Linked DNA regions of Homo sapiens: region 2 is linked to region 1. Evidence: fine-mapped expression QTL. A gene starts in region 1. The other region holds a variant in brackets. All regions are shown on one strand. Distances are between the middles of the regions. Region 1 holds the start of PRDM16 (PR/SET domain 16). Region 2 overlaps PRDM16 (PR/SET domain 16).

The links.
Region 2: its variant is fine-mapped to the expression of PRDM16 in spinal cord (GTEx, PIP above 0.99).

Annotation. Positions count from the first base shown.
Region 1 is chr1:3,061,501-3,076,015 of GRCh38, reverse strand. It overlaps PRDM16 (PR/SET domain 16), which reads right to left and starts at 6,813. Exons shown (of 17, transcript NM_022114.4): 1 at 6,720-6,813. The coding sequence starts at 6,756. It overlaps LOC124903827 (translation initiation factor IF-2), which reads left to right and starts at 454. Exons shown (of 5, transcript XM_047436614.1): 1 at 454-5,802; 2 at 7,045-7,794; 3 at 7,968-8,679. The coding sequence starts at 4,153. The coding sequence ends at 7,068. PRDM16-DT (PRDM16 divergent transcript) reads left to right here and starts at 8,291. Exons shown (of 6, transcript NR_015440.1): 1 at 8,291-8,679; 2 at 11,714-11,804; 3 at 11,961-14,515. It also overlaps the pseudogene LOC100420339. RefSeq lists enhancers at 2,489-3,337, 7,920-8,494.
Region 2 is chr1:3,415,391-3,429,905 of GRCh38, reverse strand. PRDM16 (PR/SET domain 16) reads right to left here. Exons shown (of 17, transcript NM_022114.4): 11 at 11,909-12,078; 12 at 11,162-11,239; 13 at 4,156-4,325; 14 at 3,681-3,855. Among named protein-coding and RNA genes, the nearest start is that of ARHGEF16, 32 kb to the left of the region's middle. RefSeq lists enhancers at 8,742-9,242, 13,398-14,093, 14,094-14,515. The variant G/A (reference allele first, on the strand shown) is at 4,674.

The DNA of each region.
Region 1 (14,515 bases):
GAAGTGGGCACCCCACGCGTGGGGGGCTTGGCTCACTCTTGGTCAAGCCTAGTGCGTGACTCCTCCTCCCCCAGGAGGATGGTGGGCAGCAGCTGCTGAGGTTCTGCCGCCCTGGCCTCTGGGGTCCCCTCTGGCCCGAGGTGGATCGCAGATGAGCCTGTCGCCGCACCCACTGCTCCGCCTGACGAGTGGGGTTCAGGCCAGAATGAAAAAGGGACCCCTCCTCACCGGGTTCGTTTCAACACAGGCTCCACGGCCTCCACTCTGAGAGGTGCGTGTGCAGGTTCGGAAACGGCACCGCCATCAGCGCGGAAAACGCGCATGGGACGGCACAGAGCCTTATTCAGAGGAGATGAAATAGTCACTAGGACCCAGCCATGTTTTAAAATGATTATAAATTATTTTAACAGTGCATTTGCAAAGGGTTATAAAAACAGCCATAATATATTTTTTTCCTTAGATTCTAGAATTACCAGTGTGACAGCTAATGCAATAATGATTTGTTTCAAATGCCAGTGTTTAAGCTGTATAAAGCTGATTTTATACATTTTTCCAGTAGGCCGCATTGTAGTTAATGAAATTAAACACACCAATCGCATTTGTCCCCAGGGGACGAGGAACTGAACACACCACTGGTTTATTTTTTTATTAAAATAAATTGCAGCCGGCAAGATGGACTAATTGCATACAGAATTGAAAAAGAAACATTCCATTGATATAATTAAGCCAATTTTCATGGACAGAAATAGTTATAGTGGATATAAAATAAGCAAAACCTTCACCAGAATCTGACTTCCCTCCTTTTCTGCCCAAAATGTTAACTATTAAACAAATATGATCTTGGAGCGGCCAGCACTCCTATCTTCAGGCCTCGGGGCATTGTTCCCGCGTCTCAGGCTAGGCCGGCCAGGCGGGCCAGCCCAGGCACCTCCAGACCGTGGAGGATTTGATGGCAAAAGCCCAAGAGTGAAGTGGTCAGACCAGGGAGAGGCCACTCCTCCCCTGCTCTGGGCCCACCAAAGCTTGGGAGCACTCCTGGCCCAGGATGACCACCGTGGCCCTGGCTGCAGCCTAGGAGACACCCAGACTTCAGGAGCCGTGGCCCACGCCAGGCTGGACCAGGGATGTCAGCAGCCGGCCCCTTCCACCCTGCAGCTCAGACCAACAGGGCAGCAGCAGCTCCACCTCCCCCTGACTGCTGGGCGGTGGGTGGAGGCGGTGGGTGGTGGTTATTCCCCTCCAGATCTGAGGGGTGGCAAAGGGCAGGTCCTACACCTCCCGGGCCAACCTGAGCCTCCTGCATTTGCTCCGGATGAAGGCAGTGAGCGAGGGAGTGTGGAGGGTGCAGGCCAGGCCACCCGACCAAGGTTTCTGCTCCTCTGTGCCTGCCCTTGGGGACAGAACACCCACAGAAGGGGCAGGAGCTGTGGGGGACGGAGCCCAGCGGGAGTCCAGCCTGCAGGTGTGAGGTCACTTACACGCTGGACGCACGTGATGTCCTGCCTGCTTTTTAAGAACAGACCTGCTACAAGTTGAGCATTGGCCTTGAGAAAATGCTTAAACCCTGACACGCACACACACACGCGCACACACACACACACACAGAAAAAACCCTATGGAATTAACGGCAGCCTGTGGTGCTCTGTGGGGGAGGGGAATGCTACATAAGAAGCCCTGGAGGTCTTCATTCCACTGAATTTCACTGGAGCCTCAATCTGCTGTGTGCCCTCCCAAGAGTTCCTCCACCTCTCTGCGTCTGGGGTTTCTCACTCTCAAAAGTGGTGCCTGCTCGCCTGCACTCTGTCTTCCCAGGGTCAGTGAAGGGAGGAGGTGTCCTGTCCCCCAAGTGCACTAGGGAGCCCGGCCCGTCTCCCGAGGTTGCCGGCAGGGGCCGGGGCTGCGGATCAGACTGGGCAGGCGGGTCTACCCTGGAAAGCCAGACCCCCACCCTCTGCCTCCGTTTCTCTGCACCGTCTTCCCTCCCCCTACAGCCCCTACTTAAACCCAGGCGGCGCGCGCTCCCGCGTCTCTCGGGGCGCGGGTCGGGATGTCGCAGGGAACCCAGGCAAGCGGGGGGCCTGGCGCCCACGGTGTCCCGCACGAGGTCGAGGGTCGGCGGTTGGGGACGCGGAGGCCGCCCTCCTCCGCAAGGGAGGCCAGGAGGAGGGGACCCCGGGGTCCAAGCTGGGGCTCTAGAAGGGGAGAGCGCCGCTCCCGCTGGGCCAGGGTCGGGGCGCCAGGCTGCGCGGTGTGGACGCGGGCGCTGCTCCGCGGTAGTTGGCCGCGACTTTGTGCGCGGGGAGTGGGAAGTCGGCCGAGACTACCGGCCGGCCCGGGGTCCCCCAGGCCCCGCTCCCCGACCCGGCCCACGCCGTCTGCAGCCCTCGGTGGCTCGATTCTGAGCCCGCGGCCGCCGCTGCACCGCGGCGAGGCCCCAGCCAGCTGGCTTCGCTCGCGAAGTTTCCTTCCCGCACGGGGAAGTCGCCGGAGCTGCTCCTGGTCCTCCCGCGCCGGCGACGGGAGCTGCAGCTTCCAAGACTCGTTACACGGGTTTGATTCAAAACCTGATAAATTGTATTTAACGCTATTTGAAAATTTTAAACGAAATTATTCAAAAGATTTTTAATCCCGGATAATTTTTGTTGAAACTCTAATTATACATCACCTTAATTACCAGCCCAAGCCCCCCAAGGATCCCTAATTGCCTCCTAATTGAATAAAACAGGGGGCTAATCGGGCCCACAGCGGCCCAGCGAGCTGCCACCAGCCTCACCTCCCCTGAGGGGCCCGGTGGGGGGAGCCCCTGGCTGCTGGGTCCCCTTCACCCAGCCTCCCGGCAGAAATGGCAGACCTGGTCCCCTGCCCTGCGCACTGCCTACAGGAGGACTTGGGAGCCGAGGAAGCCTCGGGGCCAGGAGGGGCCAGGATGTCGGGCTGGCACCTGCTCTGGAAGAGCCGCTCACAGGACAAGGAGGACCCCCCGAGTGGGCGTCTGGTGGTTGGCGAGCCAGGCATGGCCGGTGCCTGTCCCCAAGGAGCCCACCCAGCAGTTGCTCCACAAGCCAGCTTGGCAAGCCCCTCCTGCCAGCTTCCGAGCCATGGCACACCTGCGCAGCCAGGGGCTGAGGGAGGGGGCCTGTGGGTGACACACAGTCCACTGCCGTGGGGCACCAAGCCCTGGCGGCCAGCCCCGCACTCCACCCCTCCACCGCAGCCTCTGTGTTTTCGTCCGAAGCGGGGCAAGACGCTGGATTCCCGCCGGACGTCCTGGCGCTGCTGCCCTAACCGGCCTTCAGAGGGAAGGCTGCCGTCCTGGCTCTGGGGAGGGGACTGGTGGACGGGGCCAACTGCCCCAGGGAGGGTGGGAGAAGGGAGGGCCCAGCCAGCCTGGCCTGTTTCTACGAAGAAGGAAGGAGGCTGTGAACTGGGCCGCCAGCCCCGCTTACCTCTACCCTGTCTCCAGCACACCTTCCACACGCATCACCCTCAAACACGAGCAAGACACACACAGTCCCCATCTAGTGGGGGCTGCAGCTCCCCCACCCCAGGGGCTAGATGGGACTTGTGGAGAGGACACTCCCCCAGCCCTGGGGTATGTGGCATCTAGGACATGGGGTCTGCCACCTAGGTGGGGATCAGGCCTCAAGGAGCAGCTCTGATGGGGGTGCCGACTGGCACATCCTCCTCCTGCACAGAGGCCCCCAGCTGTGCTATGAGGGCGATGGTGATCCAGAGAGCACCTTGGTGGTGCTAACCCCCCACCTGCCCACCTGGCTCACAACAGCCCTGGAAACAATAAGCTTTTGTTAAGCATTGAGTTTGTAAATGTGGGGCTGCAGCAGCCCCTACCCCACCGGCCCTACCGCCCTGGCTTCAGTAGGGGGGACCCTGTCCCTGAACTGTCCTCACTCTGTTCCTGGCCCCCAGGCTCAGGTGGAGGAGGCTGTAGGTTTCCCATCAGCTGAGCCACAGCCCCGGCTTGGGTGCCCCAGTGGCCACCTCTGTCCTTGGAAAGCTCAGCTGGAAGCCCGGGTCACCCCCGGAGCCGCCACCATTTGGCCCTTCACAAGACCCAATCCAGAGGACTAACCCACCTGAACTGAGGCTTGGAGTGGGGTCTCCAGGGAAACACAAACGAAATTACACCTCCAGATGCACACTCGGCGGTGGCCCCCGAAATGCTGGGTCATGGGGTCACCTCCACTGGCCTGGTTGCTGTTCTGTGCCCAGCCTGAATACCAACCTGGTAACCATGACCTTGCCCCTGCCCAACCCCACAGTCCCCTGACCTGGTCAGCATTGTGGGGAGGGGAGGACCTGCTGGCTGGAGTGCTGGCCCTACCGCCTCTGACTCGGGTAATGGACTATGGTCCCCGGGGAAGTTCACATCTGCTTAAAATATCGCCTGATGAAATGAAATTCTTCAGCGGATCCTGCCTTCTTGCTCAGGGCAGGCAGTGTGATCCTGAACCTGCCTCAGCCACCTTGGGGGGCCTGGGACAAGCGGTCCCAGCTGTGGAGCCTGGAAGGAGGGGTTCCCAGCGCTCGGCCAAGTGTGGACAGAGGGCCGAGGCCTGGCAGTCACCTCTCATGGGGTTTTTCCTCACTAAAGACTCTCGGGAAAAGGAAGCCAGCGCTCGGCGCTCCCGCTGGGCCCGGCTCTCCGGCCTCCTGGCCAGATGGCTGCCAGGCACCACTTCTGGTCCTGAGCGGACCCGGTCCCGGGCCACCTTCCCCACCTGGCAGAGGTGGAGCCGGCGGAGAGCTGGGGCCTCTCGGAAGTTTCCAGGGCCGCGCGGGTGCGCCGAGTCCGCCTCTCGCTTGCAGCGAAGGCCCCGGCGTCAGCGCGGCCGGTTTCCCCTTTCTCGTTCCAGCTTAGGGCCCATCCTGGGCGAGGGCCTGACCTGGCGGCCCACACGCAGCCCGGTGGTCCCGACTCTGAGCAGGCCCGCGGTGCACACACAGAACCGAACCCGAACACGCACACGCACACCCCACGCGCGGAGGGCCCGCAACGCCGCGCACAGACAGCCCCTTCGCGTCGGCGGCGAAACGCCCGGTCTTGTTCGCACCAAGAGGGGTCAGAGGTCACGGGAGGCCGAGGCCGAGGGCACCCGGCAGCGGAGCGCGGCGGGAAGGGGGCGCCTCACCCAGGGGCCGGGAACGGCCGATGGCGGGGCGCAGGAGCGTCCGGCACAAACTCGGGAGCTGCTTTTCCCTGGTGCACAGAGCGCGGGGCCTACGGCCGCGGGGCAGCTGTTGGGACGAGCCGGGCGGGCCCCGAGCCGAGGGAGCGGAGCTTCGGAAAACCGCCGCGAGTCCCGCGCGCACCCGGCTCACGTTTGGGGGCTCGGCCCCGGGAGCTGCGAGGCCGGCCTGGAGGGACCCGGCCCCGGAGGCGCGGACGGAACGGCGTGGGTCGGGCGGGGACCTCGAGGGGAGCGGCCCGGGCGCCTCTTCTGCGGGTGGGCGGGCGGGCGGCCTGCAGAGGAGGGGGCGGCGGGAGCAGGCGGCGCCGATTCCGCTCCGCGCGGCGCTGGCCGCTTCGCTGCAGCCGGGGCTTCGGCGGGGCTGCGGGAGCCGCGCTGGCCGGGCCGCGGCTCCGCCTGTCCTCACCTGCCCGCCCGCCTCACCGCGGATGGCGCCGGCGACCGGGGCTGCGGGGTGCGCGCGGGCTGCTCGGAGGCGCTGTGGCGGGCGAGGGCGCGGGTGGCTGGAGCACCCGGCCCGCGGCAAGGACCGGCTGGCGGCAGGCGGGGCGCGCGGAGCCCGGGGCTCGGCCGAGACGGAGCGAAAGAGAAAGTAAGACCGAGGACCGGGCAGCCTGGCCGGGGCAGCTCTGTCCCCGCCGGGCCCGGCTGTGCCAGGCAAGCGGGTACAGAGGGGTCCACGCGGGCCCGAGGGCGGCAGCGGCGGGTCGGGAGGTGGCCGGGTGGGTCCCTCCTGTCGGAGGCACTGTCGCCCCGGCGGCCCGCGCAGGCTGCCGGCGTCCCAGAGGAGCGCCCTCCACCACGCGGGGCACAGCCGGGGATAAACTTCACGACCACAGTTCCCAGCCCGGGCAAAAGTCTCCATTTTGCTCCCCAAGTGGCTGCGGCTGTCCCGCCGTCGCCACCCCTGCCCCTGCGCCCGCGGAGCCGGGTGGGCGCCGGCCCGCGCCCCCTCCTCCGCCCCTCCCCGGCTCGGGGTCTCCCTCCTCTGCGCCCGGCTGGCGGACGCCAAAGGCGGTGCTCTAGCGCCCACTATTTCAAAAGCCCGGAATATGATTTGACCAGGACTGAGAGCCACTCGGAGAGAGAGAGGGAGAGAGCGAGCGGGGAGGAAAAAGTTGCTCTCCCCTTTCGTCAACTTTTCGCTAACTTTCACTTTTCGCTCCCCTCCACCCCCGGCCCTCCCCCTCCGCCCCCCTCCCCGGCCCCCACCGCGCGCCTCGGGTTCCCGGGCCCGAGCGCCTGACACTGGTGGGGGGGGAGGGGGTTCCGCGGGGAGGGGGCCGGCGCCTTCGGGGAGCGCGCGGCCCGGGCGCCCCGAGCCTCCGCGCCGAGCCCGGTCGCCCCGGAGCGCGGGAGGCGGAGCAGCCCCCCGGGCCGCGCGGCCGAGCCGGGGGCCCGGAGCCGCAGGCGCGCCGGCCGCGCCCCGACGCGCACCCCTGGCCCGGGCGCCCCGGCCCGGCGGCCCGGGCCCCGGCGGCGCGGCGCGGCCGAGCGCGGGAGACTTACTTTTGGCTAGCTTCCTCGCCCTCGCCTTGGATCGCATGGTGTCGGCTCGCGGAATCTCTCTCCTCCTCCTTGAGTCCAGAAGCAGCCACACACTATCTTCATCTCCCCAGCATTGTCAGTTTGGACACCTTCGCACATGCGCACAGAGCACTCAATCTGACACCCCTCGCCGGGGCCAAAAAAACTTTGCAATGTATTCATCATCCTCATCGTCGCGCCGCCGCCGCCGCCGCCGCCGCCTCGGCGCGGGATTGGGGGGCTCTCCTCGGCCTTCTCGGTCTTCGTCTCACTTATCTCTCCCCCCTCTCCCCCCCCCCCTTTTCAGCGCAGCTCGGAACTGGCCCTTTAAGAAAACATTCCGTGTTCGGCGCTCCCGCCCGGGGCCCGCACCCCGGACACTTTAAAAGGACCCAGGTGGCCCCGGAGGCGAGGTGACTATCCCCCCACCCTGCCCCTGCGTCGCGGCGCGTCGCGCTGCTGCTCCCGCCCCAGCCGGGGCCGAAGATGGGGCGGCGGCTGCGGTTTTCCACACGACTTCCTTGGATCTCGGGGCACACGCGCCGATAGTTCGGACGCGAGTCCGGGCTGGTTTTGCTCCGTTTTACTGCGTTTGATTACTAATTTAAAAGCTTTGCGTTCCCCGTCGCCCCGGCCCGCTTTTCTCCTGCATTCTCCCCTCGGCCCCCGTCCCCGCCCTGCGATCGCTGGAGGGGGCGTCGGGGCTCGCGCGCCAGAACCCGGCTCCTCCGAAGCCCCCTCCGGGCCCCACCGCCCCCCTCGCGCCTCCCGGCCCCCGCCTCCTCCCCTTCGCCCCCACCCAACGGCTGCTGCTTCGGGCTTCGCGGCTCAAAAACAACAGCGGAGGCGCCGCCAGCTCCGCGCTCCGCCACTGCCCAGGCCGGCGGGCGGCACTCGGACCCGCCGCCCTCGGTCCCTCGCGAGGCCACGGAGGCCAACACGCCTCGCACGGGGGGACAGCGCGGGGGCAGCCGTCCAAACACCAGGCGTCCTCGGCTGGTCGTCCCAGGGCGCCCGCACCTCTCCGCCCGCGCTCTCCTGCCGCCGCGCCCCCAAGGTGAGTACCCGGCTGCGCGAGCGCCCGAGCTGGGCCACCTTCGGGGACCCGGGCCACTGGGGACACTCCCCTCTGGCCTCTCGGGGCCCAGGTGCGTAGCGGGCGGAAAGGCCAGCGGCGCAGGTGGAGCAGCTCGGACGGGAGCCGACCAGACGCTTCCTCTTCCCCTGTAGCCCCCAAACTCCGAGGCGCTGCGGCGGAGGGGCCGGGCTGAGCGCAGGCAGGGTGGCCCGGGCCCAGGAGCCTGACGGCCTGAGTGCGGATTTCTCATCTGAGTATCTGGGAATCGAGAATGAATTGGAAGGAAACCGAGGCGCTGCCCTGGCCAGGTTGCTGCCCCGCACCCTTCCGGAGCACCGAAGTCCTGCCCGGCAACGGGACTTGGAGCTGCCGCAGAGTCAGCCTGAGCCCGAGGCAGGGGTCGCGCCCGCGATGCGGGGTCTCTGCGCCGCCCCGCGAGGCTCCTGGCCTTGCCCTCCCTGCCCTTTGTTGTGTAATAAGACCTGTGGCGGCTCCACTGAGACCCACACGTGCAACTCCGCGCCTCCGCGTTAAAGGAGGTGAAACGCAGCAGCCCTGAGAAACCCCGAGACCCCGGTGTCCTAGCAGAGGCGCCCCGGATGGGGAGGGGCGCGGGGCCGGCGCCACCCCAGAGGAAAAGCCCAGCGGAGCCGGGTTGGGCAGGAGCTGGCGGCGGCGGTGCGCTGGGCCTTCTGCCTTGGATCCTCCGCGGTCGGCACCGCTTCCCTGCTCAGATTCGAACCCAGATTCGGCTCCCAAGGCTCCCACGGCTCCAGGGTGCCCAGTCTTGCAGCCAGCTCGCCGCCCGAGCCCCGGATGGAGGAAGCGCTCACTGGCCGCTACCTCTGCTGTTTCTGGCACCAGGTGAGTGTCGCCTAGAGAAGGGCCATGAGCAATGGCACAGCCCCATTCCCTGCCGTCCTTTCGAGGGTCTATCGACCCCTTTACCCACCCTCCCCACACCCTGACCATCTTTCTACAGGGGTTGGGGCAGAGAACAGCTCAGTTTACAGGCCCGGCTCTGGAGGTCTTGATCTGCCTAGCCAACTAGGGCACCGCTGCAGCTTTGCACCGCCAAGGCCGGTTCTGAACCTGCTCGCCCCAGTGGGTGGGAGGTGCTGGAGCCCAGGAACACGGGCGCTGTCTTGCCTAAACCCCGCCAAGGGCAGGTTCCCAACGGTGGGCCCAACCTGGCTGGAGCTGCTGGCTAGAAAGGACTCAAGGTCACTCCCATATCTCTGCACCCAGGTCCCCCTTGCTCCTGCCTGAAGCCTCTGCAGGTTTGGGAGGAGGCCTGGGGAAGTTACTATGGTGCCTGCGAACCACTCCCACCTGCAGAGAGGGTCCCTTCCCCACCCTCACCCTGCAGCCCAGCAGAGGCCTCCTTTGCCCCTGGCCTGGAGGTAGCCAACAGATGCCAAGGTTGTGCAGTCCTGGCCTTCTTCTACGGGTGCCCCAACTCTCTCAGGCCCTCTCCCTGCCTCCTCCTCCAGCTCAGGAGGTGGTTCTCAGAACCCTGGCCAGGCTAGGACAGGACAGCCATCCCTGGCCTGTTGCCAGCCCCTAGGGAAGAAGGGCAGGAGGTATGGGAGCAAGCTGGTCTGTGCCATCTGGTCCTTGCCCTCCACCAGGCTGTTGGGTAGGGATGGGGTCATGGATCTGCCTGGGAAGGGGTAGCTGCCGGTCAAGCCTCGCCAGGGAGACAGCCGGGCTGCCTACCTGCAAGGCACTGACGCAGCCCTGGCTCCAGTGGGGCAGTGTCTCCCGAGCCTGCTCGAGGAGCCCAGGCAGGCTGTCCCCAAGGCCATGGCCCTGGCCGAGGTTGCATCCTGGCCTGGCCAGGCCCTGCCCCCGCGTGGCCAGACTTAGAAGCGGAGAGCAGGTCAGGCATTGAGGAGTCCCGTGGGGAAAAAGGGTGAAGCAGGGAAGATCAGATGCAAGTCCTCCCTGGGGCCCAGTTCTGTGTCCCTGCCTGGCAAGGGCTTTGGGGGGCTTGGAGAACAGGTAGGGCAAATGTAGGCCCAGTGGGGAAAAGGTTGATACTAAAAGGTCTAAGGGCAATTTTCAAACCAAGTCTAGCTCTGCAGAGCCTTGAGGCTGATGCCAGGCCCTGGGGCCCCTGCGCTGGGATTGTAAGTGCTGTAAGCTCATTCCTACTGACCTCCTTGGGTCGTCCAAGGACAGTGAGTGTGGGTTGGCCACATAGAGGCTCCTACACTGGACAACTGCACGCTGCTGTCGAGTTCCAAAACCAATTTCATAGCTGGGGTCTTGGAGGCTAGAGCGGGGCTTTAACCACCAACTTCTGCTGGGGTCTGGGCAGAGAGGGAGTCCATGGAAACTCGATTTCTCCATGAGCCCTGCAGACTCCCAGTGTTTCTAACGGCTGGAGACCCATGACCAGGTTAATTCCTTAGGGAAAAGGCCGGGTTTGAGAGCCAGAAATGCTGGTCCTGCCGTGCTGGAGGAAGCATCTTATTAGCGAGTAGGAGGCCCCCAAGCCCCAGGGGTTCCCCAGAAGCCCATTGAGTAGCAGAACTACCATGCCGGCCTGCCCTCCACTCCCGGAATCTACAAATGCATTCAAGGGCTAGAGGGCCCCTTCGCTTGGCCAGGCCTTGTGCCCCATGCCAACTGGCAGGGTCAGAGCAGCCCCAGCTGCCCCTACCCCCAGCCCCTCAGGCCCCAGGGAGCCCTGCTTCGGGCCGTGTGTGCAGGACAGGAGGTAGGCATGGCACCTGGCAAGATGGACTCACCTCACCAGGTTCTTTCTCTCCCACTTTCTCTCCCCTCACCTCACCCCTTTCTCTCCCACTCCTCTGTGCTTTTTGAACTTAGCCATGGGTTTTCAGATACTTGGCCTCAGGCTCTATTGAATTCCAGGTCAAGGTTTTACTGACTCCACACCCCCACCTTGTTCCTCCGGGTAGCAAAGAAGCACACAGCCTCTGGTTTACCAACGGGCTTTCCTGGGAGATTGGAAATGCCCCAGGTGGGATCCAGATCGCCAGCGCTCACCCCACCCCCAATACGTGGGCCACTGAGTCAGGCCAGGATGAGGCTCTTGCTCCCCGGGCATGTTCTCCTGCCCCAGACTTGAGCAGCAGGAGCCAGGAGACCACAGGGGCCCTTGGGGATGGCTGACTTGGCTCCCACTAGACAGAGGGGAACATGGAGGAGGGCTGCTTGGACCCTATACCTCGCAGGGGACTCGATGGGGGCTGAATGCTGGAAGGAGCCTGCGTTTGGTCTAGAATGGTGGGGGTGGGTGGGAGACACAAGTCATGGAAAAGGCCATTTCTTCCCTATTGAGACCTCTGAAATGACCCGAAGTGGGTGCTTCCTCCAGCATCATGCCTCAGCCGCACACTGGGGCTACAGGAATCCCCCCAGACCCTGGGGTCAATATTTCGGGGCCCCTTTGAACCTTCTTCTCACCCGAGGCCTGGGAAACCTTCTTGTGCCCCAGAATACTTGGAGAGGACAGGACACAGGTCCCAGTTGTGGCCCAGTGGTGGCAAGGTTCCATTCCCTGCACTGCTCAAAGGTGGGGGCCTCCCAAAGCCGATACCCGATTCCTGGTCCCAGAGTGGGTAGCTGGGAGGAGTGGACTTCCTAGGAATGTGAGCCATGTCGCTGATTTCGAACAAACCCCAGATGTGTGGAAACTGACTTATTTTGATTGCAAGAGGGTCCTTGTCCCTTGCAGATGGGCAGCTTCCGGGGACCGGCTTGCACGATGCCGTGGCCACCCCAGTGGAGACCCTCTGCCCGGCTTTGTGTCCTGGCGTCCCCACCAGGGTGCCCAGCTCTCCTGCGCAGATGTCGGGAGTATCTGGATGCCCCATGGGCACTTCGAGGGCCCAATCCGGAGTTTTTTGTTTTGTTTTGTTTTAAGAGATTGAGACTGTGAACCTGAACTCCCTTGATCTCCTCCCGTTGGGCCCAGGAGGGAGCCGAATCCAGGCCCAACCGGGCTCACTGAGAAGGTGCAGGAAGCCCCCAACGACTCCTACTCGTGTGCGGCCCATACTGGGCCAGGACGCTGCAGTGGCCGAGCCGCTGGGTGTCTGCAACGGGGAGCTCCCCCGCCGCTGGGGGCAATAAACGGAATCGGTTTCACACGCTTTCCCTCTTGATCTAAGAACCTTTAAAAATCCGCCAACGAATGCTGTTGCCTGGATGCGCTGCCTATGACCTTCAGCCGTGTGTTCACGCGCGCCCGCAGCCGTGGAGTGGCGGTCCCTCCTGCCGCCCGCAACCCCGGGGCCGCCGGTCTGCGCACACCGGGAGCAACTTCGTTACCCACAGCGCCCGCGTCCTGCGGCTCGCGCGGAACTGCGCGCGGGAAGGTGGCAGAGCGACGCTCCAGAACGCTGCTTGCGTAGACGCTGCCGCTGCCTTCAGATCCCAATTCGGCCGCGCGCGGGCGGGGCCCTGGCAGCAACGAAAATGGCGAGCCTCGTAGCCTTCCGGGCCCGGCGGCCACATTCCGGGAGTCGCCAGGTGGGAGCCCGCCTTCCGTGTCCCCAAACGCCCAGAGCCCGGGACACGGGCCGGCGGCCGGGTCACCAAGCCAGTTCCCGGAATCGGCTCGCGCCGGAATCCAGACTCGGCTTGCAAAGCCCGCTCCTGCCGTCTCTCCGCAGCGCGCCCTGCCCCCCACTGCCGGCCCTCTTAGCTTCAAAACCAAATTTTGCCTTTCATCCTGAGAGATTAATACCCCGCAGGTGAAACCGTGGAGACGGAGCTGCGGTGGGTTTCTTTTCCACGCCTCAGTTTCCTCGTCTGTGAAATGGGACCAGGCGCGCCTGTGCTTCTCCGGGAGTTTATTGCAGGGCTGGCTGGAGAGAATGGCTGGGTGGAAGCTGCCAGGAGGAGGCCCAAGGCCGCCCACCCCGTGGGCCTCGTTTGCTGAGCGGGGGTCAGAGGCGTGCGGGACAGGGCGCGCCCCACGGCGGCTCTGGAGGCGGCCCGGCCCGTCCCTGTCTCCTCCCCTCGCTCCCCCTCCCCCGGCCTTCCCGGAACTCTCCTCGCCCGCTGGGTGGAGGAGGGGCGAGGGCCGACTCCGCCGCCCCTGGGGTCTCCCTCCTCCCACCCCCACCGCAGAGTCTGGCCCGCCCTGGGCTTTCCTCTCAGGTCCCTTTGGGTCTCCAGAAGCCCGGAGGTTTCGCGCAGACTCGAACCTGAGATGACACCACCCAGCACCCCAAATCCTGCAGAGTGTGGAGGGGATCTGGGGAGAAGGCAGGGGCTGCCCGGGCGCTCTGGCTGCTGGGGGTGGGGGACAGGGCCTGCCGGGGAAGCGGGTCGGGGGAGGACTGGAGACCCAGGCTCCCCTAGGTACAACGAACCTCGCGGGAGGGAATACGCCATCCCCGTACCCACTTCCGAGGACGTAGGTCTTTTGGCACCGGCGGCAGCCGCGTTCCCACACATCTGGGCGGGGCCCCGCAGCATGGCCTGGGGAGCTGAGGCTTCGGGATCCGGCACAAACTACCATTCTAGGTGTAGACGGAGGAGGTGGGGTGTGGGAAGCAGGGGGCCATGGTCTGAGCAGACCTTCTCACCTCTGGGCCTCCCACCTCCTGGGGCAGGACTTACGGGGAAGGACCCGAGGGGAGTGGGGTGTCCATAGGGACACCCAAGGGTCTATCCCTGCGAGCTTTGCTTTCTACTAAACCAATAATCGCAGTGGTGGTGGCAGTCGAGACACGGCTCAAAGAGCCGGCAAGAATAGAGCAGAGACCAGGATCGCCCCAGGCAGGGAAAAAATGACCAGTTCTGTAGAGTGACCCGAAGGTGATGGAATCACTCGGGCGTCCTCCTGGGAAAGAGCTGCCTGCTCCCCCGCCGCCGCCAGTACACCGGCGCCCATGCCCCGGGGGCTGGAGAGAGCAGCCAGGCACAGGTAACTCAAGAACTCCAGTCCCCTCACGGGTGCCGTGCTGTGGGGCGCCCTCACCCCCACACTTTGGGTCCCTGGGCCTCCTCATCAAAGCAGGGGCCTGAGTGGCAGGAACACCCCTGTGTGCAGAATAGTGCCCCCTGCAGCCCCCACAGGTCACCTCTTTGAGGACCTAGGTGGGGCCTGCCCTGGGGACTGGGGTGAAGAGGGCAGGTCCAGCCTTCAGCAGCCCCTCCCCCATGACTTCAGTGGAATTACAAGGGGAACACCCAGGGCAGCTCCCGTAGGCTGCACAAGGGAAGAGGGGAGGGCTTCTACTGAGGTGAAACAGTGACCCACCCCTCCCACACCGTCAGCCTCCCTCCCCTCTCCACCCTTCAGTGCTGGGACCCCAGGGCCCATAGACAGCTGGGGGAGTGGGGAGACAGGAGGAACTCAAGCTCAGCTTCTGCCTCCTGTCTCCTGGGACCCTCGGGCAGCCCCTCCAGCTTCCTGGGAGTCCAATTTCCCAAGGTAGAACGGTGGCGGCAGAGCCTGGCCCTGTGGTGGGGCAGCTGCACCCCGATGAGTGGCTTGCAGTTCCTGGAGCCCTGCAGGTTGTTGGAGAGGCAGGGAGCCCTTCTCCCTCCTGCCTGCCCTCTTGCACTTCCTCTCCCAGAACCCAGCACTACTCCCAGAGGCTCTGAGCTGGAGCCCTAGAAGGTAACCACCTCCTGGCTGGACACAGGGCAAGTTGGGGCCAGGCGTGAGGACAGGTGCCCCAGGAGCCACCTGCTCCACTCATCCACAAAG
Region 2 (14,515 bases), 350 kb before region 1:
CCAAGCAAGAAAGTGACAGCGTCTCACGGCGACCGACCTCCGTGTCTCGGACTCGCCTGTGTGCACGGGAACTGGGCTTGGGGAGGCCACAATTTCCTGGCTCTCCACAGATGGGCCACGTGTCTATCTCTTGTCTTTCTGCCTTCCAGGACGGACAGAACCTCACCAGGTTTCAGGGCTTGAGGAGAGTTCCTCGGTCCTGGTCGCCTGTGTTGGGGGCCAAGAGCGTCCTGTACACACACCCATCTCCTCAGCCACGGAGCTGCTGGGATCCGGGTCCTGGTTCTCACCCTGGTTGTTGGTGAGGTGCCCTCGGGTGGGGTTCTGTCTTTGGGGCCTGTGCCCTCTCGATGACACGAGGACATACCCCTCCCTGTCCACTCTGAGGACGGGATGAGATGGCGCAGGGTGAGAGCCCAGGCTCATCACATGGGCATGTGCTGTGAGATCTCATCTGGTGGCCCCACGTGGGTTTGCATGGGCTTCCCACCAGCTGGGGGCAGGGACTTTGCCCTCTTTATGTCTGCTGCACACCCCCCATGCACAGAGTATTTGCTTTTTAGTGTTGGGGAGCGGAGCATCCGGCACGGACACAGAATAGGGCCCAGTGGCTGGTTTGGCTCCAACAGGGAGGACAGTCAGTTTCCCAGAGCTGCCCAAACCAAGCCCCACAGAATGGGGGCCTGAAGCAACAGCCGTGGACGCTTTCACAGCTCTGAGGCCAGAAGTCCAAGATCCAGGCGAGGGCAGGCCGGGTTCCTTCCAAGACTCTGGGGGAGAATCTGTCCCTGGTCTCTCTCCAGCTCCCGCTGCTGCCGGCCCTCTTTGGCCATCCTTGGCAAACCTTGGCACTCTTCGGCCCTCCTATGTGACCCTTGGCCCTCCTTGGCCATCCTTGGTGACCTTTGTCCCTCTTAGGTGACCCTTGGCTGGGAGGCGCATCACCCTGACCTCTGTCTCCATTTTCCCTTGGCCTTCTCCCCTGCGTGATTTTCTCCAAGTGCCCCCTTTTTAAGAGGCCGTCAGTGCCGCTGGATTGGGGCCCACTCTACCCAGTGTGGCCTCTGCTTAATCCCTCCTTAAAGACCTTATCTCCTAAGAGAGTCCCATTCTGAGGTACCGGGGGCTGGGACTTCCACCTGGGAATGCTGAGGGACATGATTCAACTCAGGGGTTCACGGGGCTGCAGGACCAGGACTCCTGACAGAACTGGATCCTTCCTGATGGCGGAGGGCAGGAGCTGGTTCTGCAGGAGGCCCAGGGAACGTTCCCGCCACCCCAGGGACTGGCTGCCTATGTCCACCTTGCCCTGTTCTCATTTTCGTCAGTGACGCAGGGGCTCTCAGGACCAGGCCAGCTGGACCCGGGGACCTTGCCTCAGCAGGACGGGTCTTCCGAGGGCCTGAGTCTGAGTCCGTCTGAGGCCGGCTGTGCCCGTATGTTCTGAGGTGTGGAGAGCCTCCCTCGTCCCCACCCCTAGGGCTGTGAGAAGCAGGGCACTGTGGGCCTTGCCATAGGCGAGGGGGAGGCCCGGCCACATCTCTTTCTCTTAGAGACAGCCTTCTGTCCTGGTGGGTCTCCTGCAGTGCGGCCGGGCTGCACCCTAGCTCGGGGTCCTGGTGGGTCTCCTGCAGCGCGGCCGGGCTGCACCCTAGCTCGGGGTCCTGGTGGGTCTCCTGCAGTGCGGCCGGGCTGCACCCTAGCTCGGGGTCCTGGTGGGTCTCCTGCAGTGCGGCCGGGCTGCACCCTAGCTCGGGGTAGGGGGGCCTTGCTGTCCTCCAGGTGGTTCAGCCTCCGCACACGCTCCTGGTCCTGGGCCCACCCCGGCAAGGATGCCATTGATGAATCCTCACTTGTTCCTCGCCTGGCCTTACTCTGGGAGCTGCAGCTTAGGGGATTGTGCCTGGGGACGGGGCTGTGGGGCGTAGGTAAGGCCTGGCCTGTGGCGCTCATGGGTCTGACACGCAGCTGCAGGGAACACGAACAGCTCCCATGCGGCTGTCTCAGCGTGGCCAGGGCAGAGTTCCTTTCAGGCCATCGTTCCTGGAGCCCACTGGGGAATGCCGGGACAGCCTGGGGGCTGCAGAGTAGGTGGGGTTGCACTGGGGTGGAGGTGAGGCTTTTGGGACCACGGCCCAGAGCCAGCTTCTCCCCCCGCCCCTTCCTCTGAGCCCGCTCTGGGCTCTGATGGATGAAGATGCTGAGGGCCCTACAGGTGAGCTCACCTTCCTAGGAGGGGCACAGATTTGGAACGTGGCTTTGCCAGAGCCAGTGTCCAACTGCCTCCTGTGTTTATTGCTTGGATGCCTCTTTCCCAGGTACCCCCACTCTCCTAGAAGCAATGACAGGAAGACGCAGCCCTGCCCTGGAGGAGGGGATGGGCTCTGAGGGAGCTGGGGTCTCAGGGGGCTTCTTCTTCACCTACTGGAGGTGGTGGGGAGTGAGCTGGGCCCTGTGGGTACAGAGCCTTAGACCGCCCATGGCCAGTGCGGTAAAAGCTTGGGATCTGGCTCTAGGTTCTGGGCCTGAGCAAGACACCCCACTTCTGTGGGCCCCGTTTTCCCTTCTGTAGAATCAGGGGATCACCCCCTCAGGCCTCTTGGAGTTTGGAACACCTTCGGTTCTCTGCCAGCTGGCTGGTGTTAGCTTTCACAAAGGAAGCAGCCCCGCTGGGGTGTCTGAAGGCTCCCCCAGAGTAAGTGAGGCCTACGGAGCCCTGGTATCCCAGGTTGCACAGAGCATGCGCCGACATTCCTGGATCCGAATTCCACCATCGTTCTGCTGCTGTGTGTCTAGACGCACGTGCGCCCATGCGTGTACATGTGTCTCTAGGTGTACGCACACGGCTGTCCGTCACGCATGTGTATGTGCACACACTGTCCATGTGCATGTACTTGCATGTGTGCATATGCGTGTGTGTAGATCTAGGCAGGCATGTTTATGCACGCACATGTTATGTACACGTGTGTGCATGAGTGCACGTGCATGCCCGTATTTGGGGACCTGCACGCAAAGGGCAGAGCACACAGTTCCTGGACTGCCCATGCCCAGACCACAGCCCTGTCCCCAGGCACGTCCTGCCCTGTCCCCAGGCACGATCCCCTAAACTGCAGCTCCCAGAGCAAGGCCAGGTGAGGAACAAGTGAGGATTCATCAATGGCATATGTATACACATGTATACAAACGTGCATCTCTGTGTGCATATGTGCATGTGAATGTGTACATGTACACGGGGCATACCTATGTGTGCATGTGTGTGCGTGCATGTGTACACATGTGTATGTGTGTACATGTGTGTATAAAGGTGCAGCATTTTGGTTTGGAAATCTTTAGTGCCTCAGATTAAATCAAAATGTCCTTGAGTGTCAGCGGCACAGCTGAACTTGTGCCCGGCTCGGTCACCTGGCTAGTGTTTTGCACACACATATGTTAACAGTGAGGTCATAAGCCCAGGGGTGCTTACTCTCATGACTCTCCAGGTGGAGGAACTGAGGCAGACAGCGCAGCTTCCCCAGGTTCCCAGAGCCCAGGGGCCTCACCCTCTGTGGTGAGGCCCCCACTGCGCCTATCTGGATGTGTTAGGGGCTGGTGCTGGGGTGGAGGTGCATGTCCTCTGAGGGTGGCCACGCAGGGCTGTTGGCCGGGTCCAGACTTTCCCCAGCCCGCGATAGTTTTCTTACCGTTTCTCTGTTCGCGTTGATGCTTGGTTCATCTCACTATTGGCAATAAAGTTTCTGATTTCCGAGAAATAAGAGTCTTCTTTCTCGTCTAAAAGTGCGTGGTTGTCCGACTCTGAGGTGGGAGAGGACGCGCTGGTCCCCAGGTGGTTCGTGAGGACCCCGGGGTGCTGGCTCACTGCGGAGGGGCGGGAGCATCAGGGGGCGGCCTCTCGCTGGACCCCTCCCTCCGTGGGGCAAACCAACCGCGAACGGGGTACACCTGGGGTGCTGTTAGGGAGGCAGGTTTCTTAGGGACACCGGAGAGCACGAGGTTCTCTTTAATGACCACGGTTTGAGGGGTGCCTGTTGGCTTCCTGAGGGGTAGTCTGTGGCCCTCTTCCCTGCCCGGCGCCCACTCCCCTGCTGTTCCCCCTCCCCCTCTGTGGGGCCTGCCCGTGTGGGTGCTCTGGGGGCTGCCCCACCCCGCGTGGCCCACCTGGTGCGTTCTCGTGCTCGTGCTTCTTGAGGTGCCGGTCCAGGTTGGTCTGCTGCCCGAAGCAGCGGTTGCACAGGTGGCACTTGAAAGGCTTCTCCTTGTTGTGGATGTTCCGGACGTGCCGCTGGAGGTTCGAAGAGATGCTGAAGGAGCGGTCGCAGTACTTACACCTGGAAGGGGCACACGCGCTCCTCAGTGCAGGCCCCGGCTCTGCATGGCAGGCCGGGCCACAGAGGGTGGGGGGAAGGGAGCCCGCGCCCCTGCCCCGTGCCCCGTGCACAGCTTTGCCCCGCCGTGTCCCGGAGGTTGCTGGATCTCCCAGCTGCAGAGCCAAAGGCATCCTGGGGAAGCTGTCCCTAGAAACAGCCCCGGCTTCAAGAAGCAGGGGTTCACGCCTATAATCACAGCACTTTGGGAGGCCAAGGCGGGTGGATCACGAGGTCAGGAGATCGAGACCATCCTGGCTGACATGGTGAAACCCCGTCTCTACTAAAAATACAAAAAAATCAGCCAGTCGT[G/A]GTGGTGGGCGCCTGTAGTCCCAGCTACTCTGGAGGCTGAGGCAGGAGAATGGCGTGAACCCGGGAGGCGGAGCTTGCAGTGAGCCAAGATCACGCCACCGCACTCCAGCCTGGGCGACAGAGCGAGACTCCATCTCAAAAAAAAAAAAAAAAAAAAGCAAGCAGGCGTTCACCCTCCTACTGTTCTGTGGCTGGCTGGTGGATCCCCCTGGAGTGTGCCCCGTGTCCCCTGGGCAGGCGGTGCGCCCGACCCTCCGGCGTCTCCTGCCCTCTGTTGTCTGGGTCTCCCTGGCCCCCAGGCCGCGGGGCCGGCAGGTCTGCAGCCGGAGGGCGACATGCTCCTTGCAGCCTCCAGAGGGCGGCCTTGCTCCATGGAAAGACACTCGGCAAGGCCAGTTTCCCAGCCGGAGGGGCTCCACAGACCAGCTCCCAGACCAGCTCCCTGTGACCTTCCTCCTCCACCCCTCGAGGTGGCTGGGGGCCCCTGGGCAGGCCCCACCTCACTTGGAGCCTCAGTTTGCCAGTCCATTCATGGAGGGCTTGGGGGCTGCCCTGGATGTTGCCACTTGTTGGCTGCCTCCTCTATTAAGGACACAAAGACCACACTGGCCCCTTTGGGCACTGCCAGCTCCCGGGCTCGGTTTATCTTTATTCCCCCAGGGTGGGCAGGGCTGCTGCCGGCCTGCACCGTGCACGTGGGGAAGTTGGGATGAGACCCCCTTCCTCCATCTGGCCTCCACGGCATCAGGCAGAGCAGGACTCTAACACCCTGAGTTTATCAGAGCAAGGCCCCTTGCGGCTGGAAAGTCGTCATAATGAGCGATCGAGGAGGGCTGCGTGTGGAGGGTTCCCCTCAGTGTGGGGCCCTTGGGCTGGGAGTGACCTTCACAGCCACACGTGGTGACCCTGCAGGCAGGGAAAGGGAGGGTTGTTCTCTCCCATTTTTAGAGAGCGGGGCTGAGAACTAGGGGGCCTGAGCGACATGTGCATTGAGCAGCAAGAAAATCATGCCTGAAACGAAGAGGGGGAGCTGGGGATGAGCTAAGGAGGAACCCCATGAGCTCTGTAGATGCACGTGCGCTGCCTCTGTGAAGACAGCCTCCTCCCTGGGGGGCATCCGGCGGGGGGCTGGGACTGGCTTACTGAGAGGCACCCGGCTGGGCTGGGCGACGGTGAAGGGAACCCTGACTGCATGGTTTTCAGTTGCACGTGGGTGCTTGGCATGTGCGTGTGTGCCATGCCTGTGTGTGCACACTTGTGTGTGCTCTTGGTCATCAGAACGCCCGCAGCGGTGCTCATCTGATCCCACAGGCACACACGCACTTGAACATTCTGTTTATATGATCATGCGTTTTCATATTTTGAAAACAAAGCAAGCTCCATGATGCCCATGGCACAGCACACAGAAAGTCTACCCACTGCAGCAGGATCCTGGCCGGGGGGGCCTGGTAGCAGCTGGAGACCAGGCCAGGGCCTCTGTGGGAGCCTCTGTGGAGGCACCAGGATGGGGCAGGGTTTGTTCACCCGGAGTGGGTGTGGCTGTTCTAAGCACAGTGGCCTTCGTTCCCACAGAGGACAGGACTCCGAGAGGCCCCACCCCGCCCCGACCGGTGCCGGTGGCCCGCTCCAGAGCAGCATACTGGTCACATGCCCTTGTCACATGGATGGGGACGTGCCTGGTGACACTCGGGAGTCCTGGCCTCCCAGACCGGGAGGGGCTGTGTGGCTCGGCCTTCTCGGCACGGTGCTGCCCTGTACAGGAGGGGCCTGGGCTGGTGTTTGCTATCACAAAAGCCTGGCGAGGGAGTCTGACCTGCCATCAACACACCCGCAGGGGCCTCCCCAAGGCAGGAAGCTTCAGTCCCACACCTTCCGGGTGCTGCTGCCGGGCCCAGGAGCTCAGCATTCCCCACGTGCAGGGGCTGCGGCCGTGAGAAACTGTCCTTGGAATCTCAGAGCCTGCGAGTCTCCCCCAACTCCCCAGGCTGCCTGGTAAAACCTAGCAAGTCTGAAAATGGGTCCCCTAGAGAACGGGAGGCAGTCCTGGGAGAAGGGCACTCCTCTCCCACGCCTGGCCGAGGCATATCCCCATCCCACTTCGTCCCAGCAAACTTCCCTGGTGCTGCCCTAAGGCTTCATCCACTCAATTCCTGAACCTTCCAACCTTTGCCGGAGGCCAGGCTCACTCTGGCCTCTTCAACAGTAGACAGGAAAAGAAGCATTGGTGATCGAAGTCCCTGAGCTCCCCGAAGTGACCCTCAGCCTTCTCTGCTCCTGATCCCAGGGGCCTGGCCTGTGGGCTTCTTCTCTGGGAGCCCCTGCTCCTGCCCGGGTCAGCTGAGCTGCCTCCGGGCACCCGGGTCCCAGCGTCTCCTCCCACAGCCCAGTGACAGGCAGCGCCCTGGCTTGGACTGGCCATCCACAAAGCCTGCCCTGGGCGGCGCTGCAGTTTTGTTTGACTCGGCCTGTGAACTCACACAAGAATAAGGCCGAGGATGGAGCCCTTTCGGCAGCAGGGTTGGAGATGCTTGGGTGCCCCCCTACCCGACGTGTCCCACACAATCTCCCAGAAAGGAGGGATTTTACACCCTCCAATGCATTTTCTCACATCCCCCACCCTGACACATCCTTAGACTGGAATGGTGGTGCCTGGCCCTGGGACCGCCATGCTTTTGAGGCTGACTGACTGCTGAGAAAGGACACACTGGACTCTGCGTCTCCAGCCCGGATGCAAAGCACCTGCCAGTCTGAGCATTCAGGCTCTGCCCAGCCAGAGGCTTCCCACCCAGCTGGGGCCATGTGCCCCTCTGGCATGTTGAGGCAGCCCAATCTGTCTGCCTGCCTGACTGTCTGTCTGCCTGCCAGTCTGCCTGCTTGCCAGTCTGTCTATCTGCCTTCCTGCCTGTCCATCTGCTTGTCTGTCTGCCTGTCTGTCTGCCTGCCTGTCTGTCCATCTGTCTGTCCACCTGCCTGTCTGTCTGCCTTCTTGCCTGTCTGCCCTGCCTGTCTGTCTGCCTGTCTGTCCATCTGTCTGTCTGCCTACCTATCTATCTATCTGCCTTCCTGCCTGTCTGCCCTGCCTGTCTGTCTGCCTGTCTGCCTGCCTGTCTGTCCATCTGTCTGTCCACCTGCCTATCTTCCTTCCTGCTTGTCTGCCCTGCCTGTCTGTCTGCCTGTCTGTCCATCCATCTGTCCATCTACCTGTCTGTCTGCCTTCCTGCCTGTTTGCCTGTCTGTCTGTCTGCCTGTCTGTCCGCCTGCCTGTCTGTCTTCCTGTCTGTCCGCCTGCCTGTCTGTCTGCCTGCCTGTCTGTCTTCCTGTCTGTTTGCCTGCCTATCTTCCTGTCTGTCCGCCTGCCTGTGTGTCTGCCTGTCTGTCTGCATGTGTGCTCAAACACGGCTCATTCAGTTCCTGGTTTCTTTGGAAATGCAGAGACTTTTGCAGAAAGTCCACCTAATGGCTCTTGCATAAACCCTAGCAATTGTGGATCCGAGGTAAGAAATGGGATTGGAAAAGAAGCTTGTTCATAAAACTGGAGAGCAAGTCCCTTGTGTGAAGCTCTGGGGCCGGGGAGAGCCACGAACAGGGCTGTGCGTTCAATTTGGTTGCAGAGAGCCCTGAACGTGGCCCTCTCTTGCTTCTAATCTAAATAAATGGCCCAGACAGAGAAGTCCATTTGAAATTTAGGGGAGCCGTGAGCCCAGGGCTGCGAGGGAGCAGAGTTCTCCGAGCAGCTGGGGTCTGCGTTGTAAATAAGCTGACAAGCGGCCAGTGAAATTGATGGTCTCACTGCGTAAAATAACACGCCCGTGAGCTCCAAAAGGAAGGAGAACGTGCAGGGTAGCCTGGCCCTGGTGCAATGCGGAGGGCCTTGAGAGGACCTTGCTGTGACCGTGCCTGCTGCACTCCCAGAGAAGCCATTGGCAGGGGAACAACAGAGTATGGGCAGGTCAGGGGGGGTGGCCAGGGCCCCCGAGCCCCTGAGCACTGGGCAGCGGCATCCTTCCTAGGATCCAGTGAGGTCTCCTGCAGCCACTACAGGGGGATCTGCTTTTGGTGACTGTAAAAGTGAGGGAAGAGGAAGAAAGAAGAGATTTTGAAACCCAGCCGTAAAAATACAACTAAAAAAGAAAGGACATGCACGGGCCGCGTGCAGCCCCCGATGGAAGCACAACTGTGCCTCCCTTGCACGCTCCAGCTTCACACAGAAGGCAGGATGGAGCCTGGGGAGATGATGGAAGCACACGGCAGACTAGGGAGTCAGCAGCCCTGAGGCAGGAATCTCGGTCCCAGCAGGAGTCCCGGGCAGCCCTGCTCGCATCCAGGCTGTGACTCCAGGCTCCACTGGGCAGCCTCCCAGAGAGACCCCCGGGCCGGCTGTCAGGACGAAGACCAAGGAGCAGCCCCTCTCCCCACTCCCAGTTCAATTTTCATGCTTCTCCAACCCAAATCCCGCAAAGCCTATATGCTTAACTTTTTTTTTAAGAAATAAGACTGCCATTAACTCAATCTCACCTTCCCGCTTCACTCAAAGACCTCTAGGCCAGGAGAAGCTAGGGGCCAAGTTACCTCCAAGAAACATATTTGGTGCACCAAAGGCTCTACGTTCCCTACCTCAGGGCTTTGAAACACATTCTGAACGATTTCAGGTCATCTGAGGCAAGGACTTAAACGGAAGAGGCTTCCAATGTCATCTGGTTTGATTACCCTATCACTCCAGGCAACCCATGAGAAGCCTGCTTCCTCCTGCTTGCGCGGGGCTGCGTCAGCCCGACCTCTCCAGGGCACACACATATGCACATGCGGCGGGCACACACGTGGGTGCTGGCACCGGAAAGGGGCTCACACTGGGGCGGGCATGGGGGGTTGAGCTCCTCTTGGCAGGCTTCTGGGGATGGCCGGCACTTTCCCTCCTCCAATTTAAAATCCTTCTGATTATCAAAGCCAGTCCAGAAACCACCAGTGGTATCAAAAGGAAAGCTACACGCTCCAAACCCCTCGGCACAGACCTGCCTTGAGCCAGATAAAGTCAGGATTTGCAACACAAACTTGCAAAGCAATTATTGTTACCAAAGTCGAAACTCACAGATTGGAGAGAGCAAAAGAAATCAATGATAATTAAATTCTTCTATAAACACCACCCCGACCCTCTAGGGGCTCTTAGCACACAACGCTGTCCAGAAGTCGGCTCTCATTACAGAAAAAACACACAGCTCATTTTCTGGGAGGGGACCAGACCAAATAAATCTTTCTGCTGCTAGCCTTTGTTAAGTTGTAAGTCACTATTTTTTGAAGGGTGGGTAAGGGGGGGCCTGTGAATTGGGGAGGGCTGTGAGCGCTGAACAGATGACCCGTAAGTGGTATAAGCTGTCATTTACCCTGCGAGTTGGGACACAGCCCTGGGGCAGCCGGGGATGCTTGCTCTGTCTCAGAGTGGGGGTCAGTGACCACGACATGCACAGGTGCCTCAGCTGGTCTCCTTCCCCAGGGATGGAGACACAGACTGAGTCCCCAGTGCCTGCACTATCATGTGGCCCCTCTAGCTCTGTGTGGCCAGAGGACAGAAATCTTATGCTGTCAACTTAAGCCGTGTGAAGCACTCTTTATCCCCAATGGCCTCTGTGAACAGACACACCCTGCATGTGTCACTAAACCAGCCTTGGCAGAAAACCAGCGTTTCCCCATTCGCCTCCCAGTTACCATTGTCTGGGGCTCTCGCTTAAAATGCCCACTCCCAGGCACTGACCCCGGTGATTCATGGGGCATCTCTGAGCCTCGGGCCCCTCATCTTTGAAATGGGATGACAAGCCTGTTGGGAGGCTGTTGTGAGCCCCAAATTCAATGCCTCCCCCATCCCGATGAGCTGTGTGACTGCTTCACTGCAGGTGCCAGCCGGCTCCTCAGATGAGAGGAGCACGGGGGGATCCTGGAAGCAGACGCACCGCTTCCCATCCAGGCTGTCCCCGGGACCCCGTGGAATCCCTCAGTGGGCTCCAAGTGGGGGGTGGGGACCCGCATTTGCACGGAGTCTCACTCTGCCTTTGGCCCACTCCCTGGCCCACCAGAAGTGGGGGTGTGGGGGCAGCTATGGCCGTCGTGAGATGAACGGAGTTGGGCTGGGTGTGGGGAAGCTGAGGTTTTCTCCCATGTGGACCCTCTGGGCCCTGGCTCTGGTCAGCCCTGCTCTGATGAGGATCCCCTGCCCCAGTGAACACCCTAGGGTGGGTGGAGAGCTGCTCCCTCACATCTTTGAGAGCCAGGCAGATGCCTTCCAGAAGGTTCCTGGGCACCTCCTGCCTCATCCTCAAACATCCTGCTGAGGCCAGGAGGGGAGGGCCAGAGTGACCAGAATTCAGCACCCGGCCCTGCCCACTGCCTGCTCACTCCAGCAGGGAGCCCTGGGAATGGCATACTTACTCCTAGGAGTGGGTCAGCGGTGCACGGAGGCAGGCGGCCCCGCCCCCACACCCAGCCCACGCAGCACCTACCTGTACGGCTGCTCCCCAGTGTGCGTCCTCAGGTGTCTGGTGAGATTGGCTGATCTGGGGAAGATCTTCCCACAGTACCTGGGGTGGAGGGAGGTGGGGAGGGTGAGGGAGGATTAGGGTGGGCTTACATGGCCATTTCCCAGAAATGGTTTCAAGCTAATGCTCGGGGTCTCACACCTGATGCACAGGTGGACCCATCCCAGCATCCCAGTTTCAGTCCCTTCCACGGCCCTGAAGCCCAGCCTCAGTTGCAGAGCAGGCTGCCATGGGCCACAGTAGTAGACAGAGCAGCCCCTGCCCCCTGAAGCGTCTCGGCCCCTCAGTCTGGCGGTGAACAGGGCAGGCTCCAACAGACTTGGACAGGCCTGCACCAGCAGAGGGTGGCCGGGAGGGTGTCATCCTGACACTGCAGAAATTGGCTGAGGCTGTAGCACTGGGCTTCCCATCCCTCCAAGCGCTGAGGTTAGTCACTGACCAGCACACCTCAGGCCCAGCCTTCCCAGTTCAGGCTGGGCTGAGGTTGCATATTCTTGAGCTCCCAAGAGCACAGCATGGCGTGAGGCAGGGGAGGCCACCCAAGTCACTTATTTGCAAAGCATGACCTCAAGCAGATAACCAGCTGATTGCAGTGCTGTGCTTTCCTATGGCCGGGACTCTGAGTTTTTCCTGGAAGCACAGGTTCACAGCCACAGGTGTGGCACTCGAGCCCCGCCAGGGCTGTCCCAGCAGCACCAAAGGGCCCCTCACCTGCACGTGTATCGCTCCTTGCCCTTCCTGAGGATGGGGTCGGAGAGCGTTGGGGGTGGGGACCGGAAGTTGAAGGGGTGGTGGGGGAGGGGCTGCAGGGAGCTGCCCGAGTCCGCCTTCATGGCTGCAAAGCTCTCCAGCTTCTCTGTCATGGTCTCTATGGCTGACATCTGTAGGCATAAGAGTGGGAGGTTATGGACTCAGCTGACTCTCACCTGTCTTCAGGGGCACGCACTGCTGGGGGTTCTGTACAACAGCATATCTTAGGGTGCTCAGGTGGGCACTGGAAGCAATGGTCTCCTAGTATTTTCTTGGACCCTGGGTTGGATTTTTTCACCTTTCTGTAGTCAGCCCTGCTCTTGTCCTTCCCTGAGTCCCAGTCCCTCGTTTGTAGTTTAAGGTCTTTCCTGCAGGAGCTGAAACTGATCTTTAGCAACCAGCCTCACTGCCCGGTTTGGGCGGGACCTGAGTGATACAGGTAGCTGATGTTTATGATTACCCCTTATCTGACCCAGGCCGGCAAAATGCCCAGCTGACTTGACTCCTGGCCAGCACTTCTGGTTGGCTAGTTTGGGTTAAATGCAGAATTACATCTAGTTTAACATTAAAAAGTTTATTTTTTAGTCTTGAAAAATTACAATAGCAACCTGAATCTCCGTTTAAAGCATAGATTGTGGGCCTGCAGAACCACTGCCACCAAGTGGCAGCATGCCATAATTGCAGGCAAAGTACTAAGGAATTCAACAGCCTCTTTAAGACTTAAACCCACAAAGGAAATATTCAAAATAATAATGTGACATGTCACATGACACAGGGCAATTTGATATGGGCAACAGGAGCTGCCTCTCTGCTCCCTGGAGATGCCCAGGGCTTGCTCGATTAGGAGAGTGGAAGCATGGGATTGGTGGGCAGAGCTCTGATCAGAATCCCAGACTGTCCTGGCCCCACTGAGGTCTCTGACAATAGCGACAGGAGAGGGGAAGGGCTGGGCTGATGGAGCTGCTCAGTGTCAGCCCTGCCTCTCCCAGCTCCCCTTCTCTTTGAAGATTTGGAGCTGACCTCAGTGGAGAAGGAGATGGGCCACCCTGTGATATCTGCTGTGTGCCAGGCCCTGTAGGGGGCTGCACAGGGGCTGAAAAGGAAGAGTGTTCATCATCCCCTGAGGGGTAGCAAAAGGCAAAACAGGGAACAAACCCCGGGCCTCGGCACCACACACCCAGCCTGCTGAAGGTGGGGCCAGTGCTCCCAGGGCCCAATGCCTGACCCACAGGGCCCTCCAGACACCTTTGCTAAACAGGTATTTTCATAGCCTGCCTCCCCTGGGAGCTCCCAGAGAAGGGGATGAGGAGGGAGGGCAAGGGTGAGGCAGGAGCTGATACAGATGCAGAGGGAAGGGAGAGCTTGGGGTTCCCCAGGTGCTGGTGTCACTGGGAGGAACTGGCCAGGGTGCCGGTCCTTGGCACCCAGCCTCCACGGAATGGGTGTGGGGGTGAGGAGAAGGGCAGGTGAGGACCTGCGTCATCAAGGGGCTTCATATAGGGCTCGCTGCCTCTGGGCAATGCTCAGAGCCAGCTCCACAGAGGTGACCCGCCCATTTACAGCAAGACCCTAGCCCTGGCTGCCCACTAGCAAACAAAACTATCCCATCACGCGGCTGGGGTCTCTCAGAGTCCGAGTGCCGGGCATCTGGCACTCAGCTTTTCGGAGACCTGCTTGCCAGGGACTTATCCAGCTGCTGCTGGTAGGGAGCAGAGGGCTTTCTACAAATGCTTCCCAGAGACCACATGAGCCAGTGGTGGGGACGTTTTGCTATTTGGGGAACTGGTTACGATAAAAATACCCAGAAAGAAACGAACGAGTAGAAACTCGTGTCCGTCCACAGTGGCCAAGGCCTCCCCTCTGGCCCCTTCCAGCCCCACCCAGGCTGTGGGGGTCAGGCTTCTCCCGCCCCTGCGAGGCAGGCATGCTCTCATCCTGATGAGAACGAGTGATGAGCGATGGGCAGATGGAAGCTGCCTTGCTCCCTGAGCCATCAACTGGGCCTCACCAGCCCCTCCGCAGCCCGGAGCAGCAGGGCTGAGGTCTTTCCACAGGCATGGCCTCTTGGGCTTTGTCGAGGTCTTTAGTAACTGGCGCCTTCTGCCCAAGTGACAGCCCAACCTTAGACCATTTGGTGACTTATTAGTCATCTCTCTCTTCCCGCCCCCCACCTCCTGGCTCCGGGCTGCAGGGACAGGCAGCGGGGGTGGCAGGCCCGTGGGGGCAGCGGGCAGGAGGGACAATGGAAACTGCCCCCCGCTGGGCTCCCTTCCTCGGGCCTGGGTGGGCCTCTCCCGCCCGGCTTGCTCCGCCCGATCAGATATTCCCGGCCTCGCTCCCCGCACAAACAAACGCAGGATGCGCCTGGCTGGCTCGTGGCTCTTTCCAGCCCATCCCGAGGAAAATCAGGGGAAGTTATTAACCAAACTCCACGGCCCCGGGGAAACAATGGGAGGCGCTAAGTTTAGCTGTGAACTCAGCCTGGGCGCAGGTTTCACAAACCAGGTGGGGGGCCCGTCCACGGCGGGGAAGGCCGAGAAAGAGAACAATGCCCCGGTCTGGTCTGCA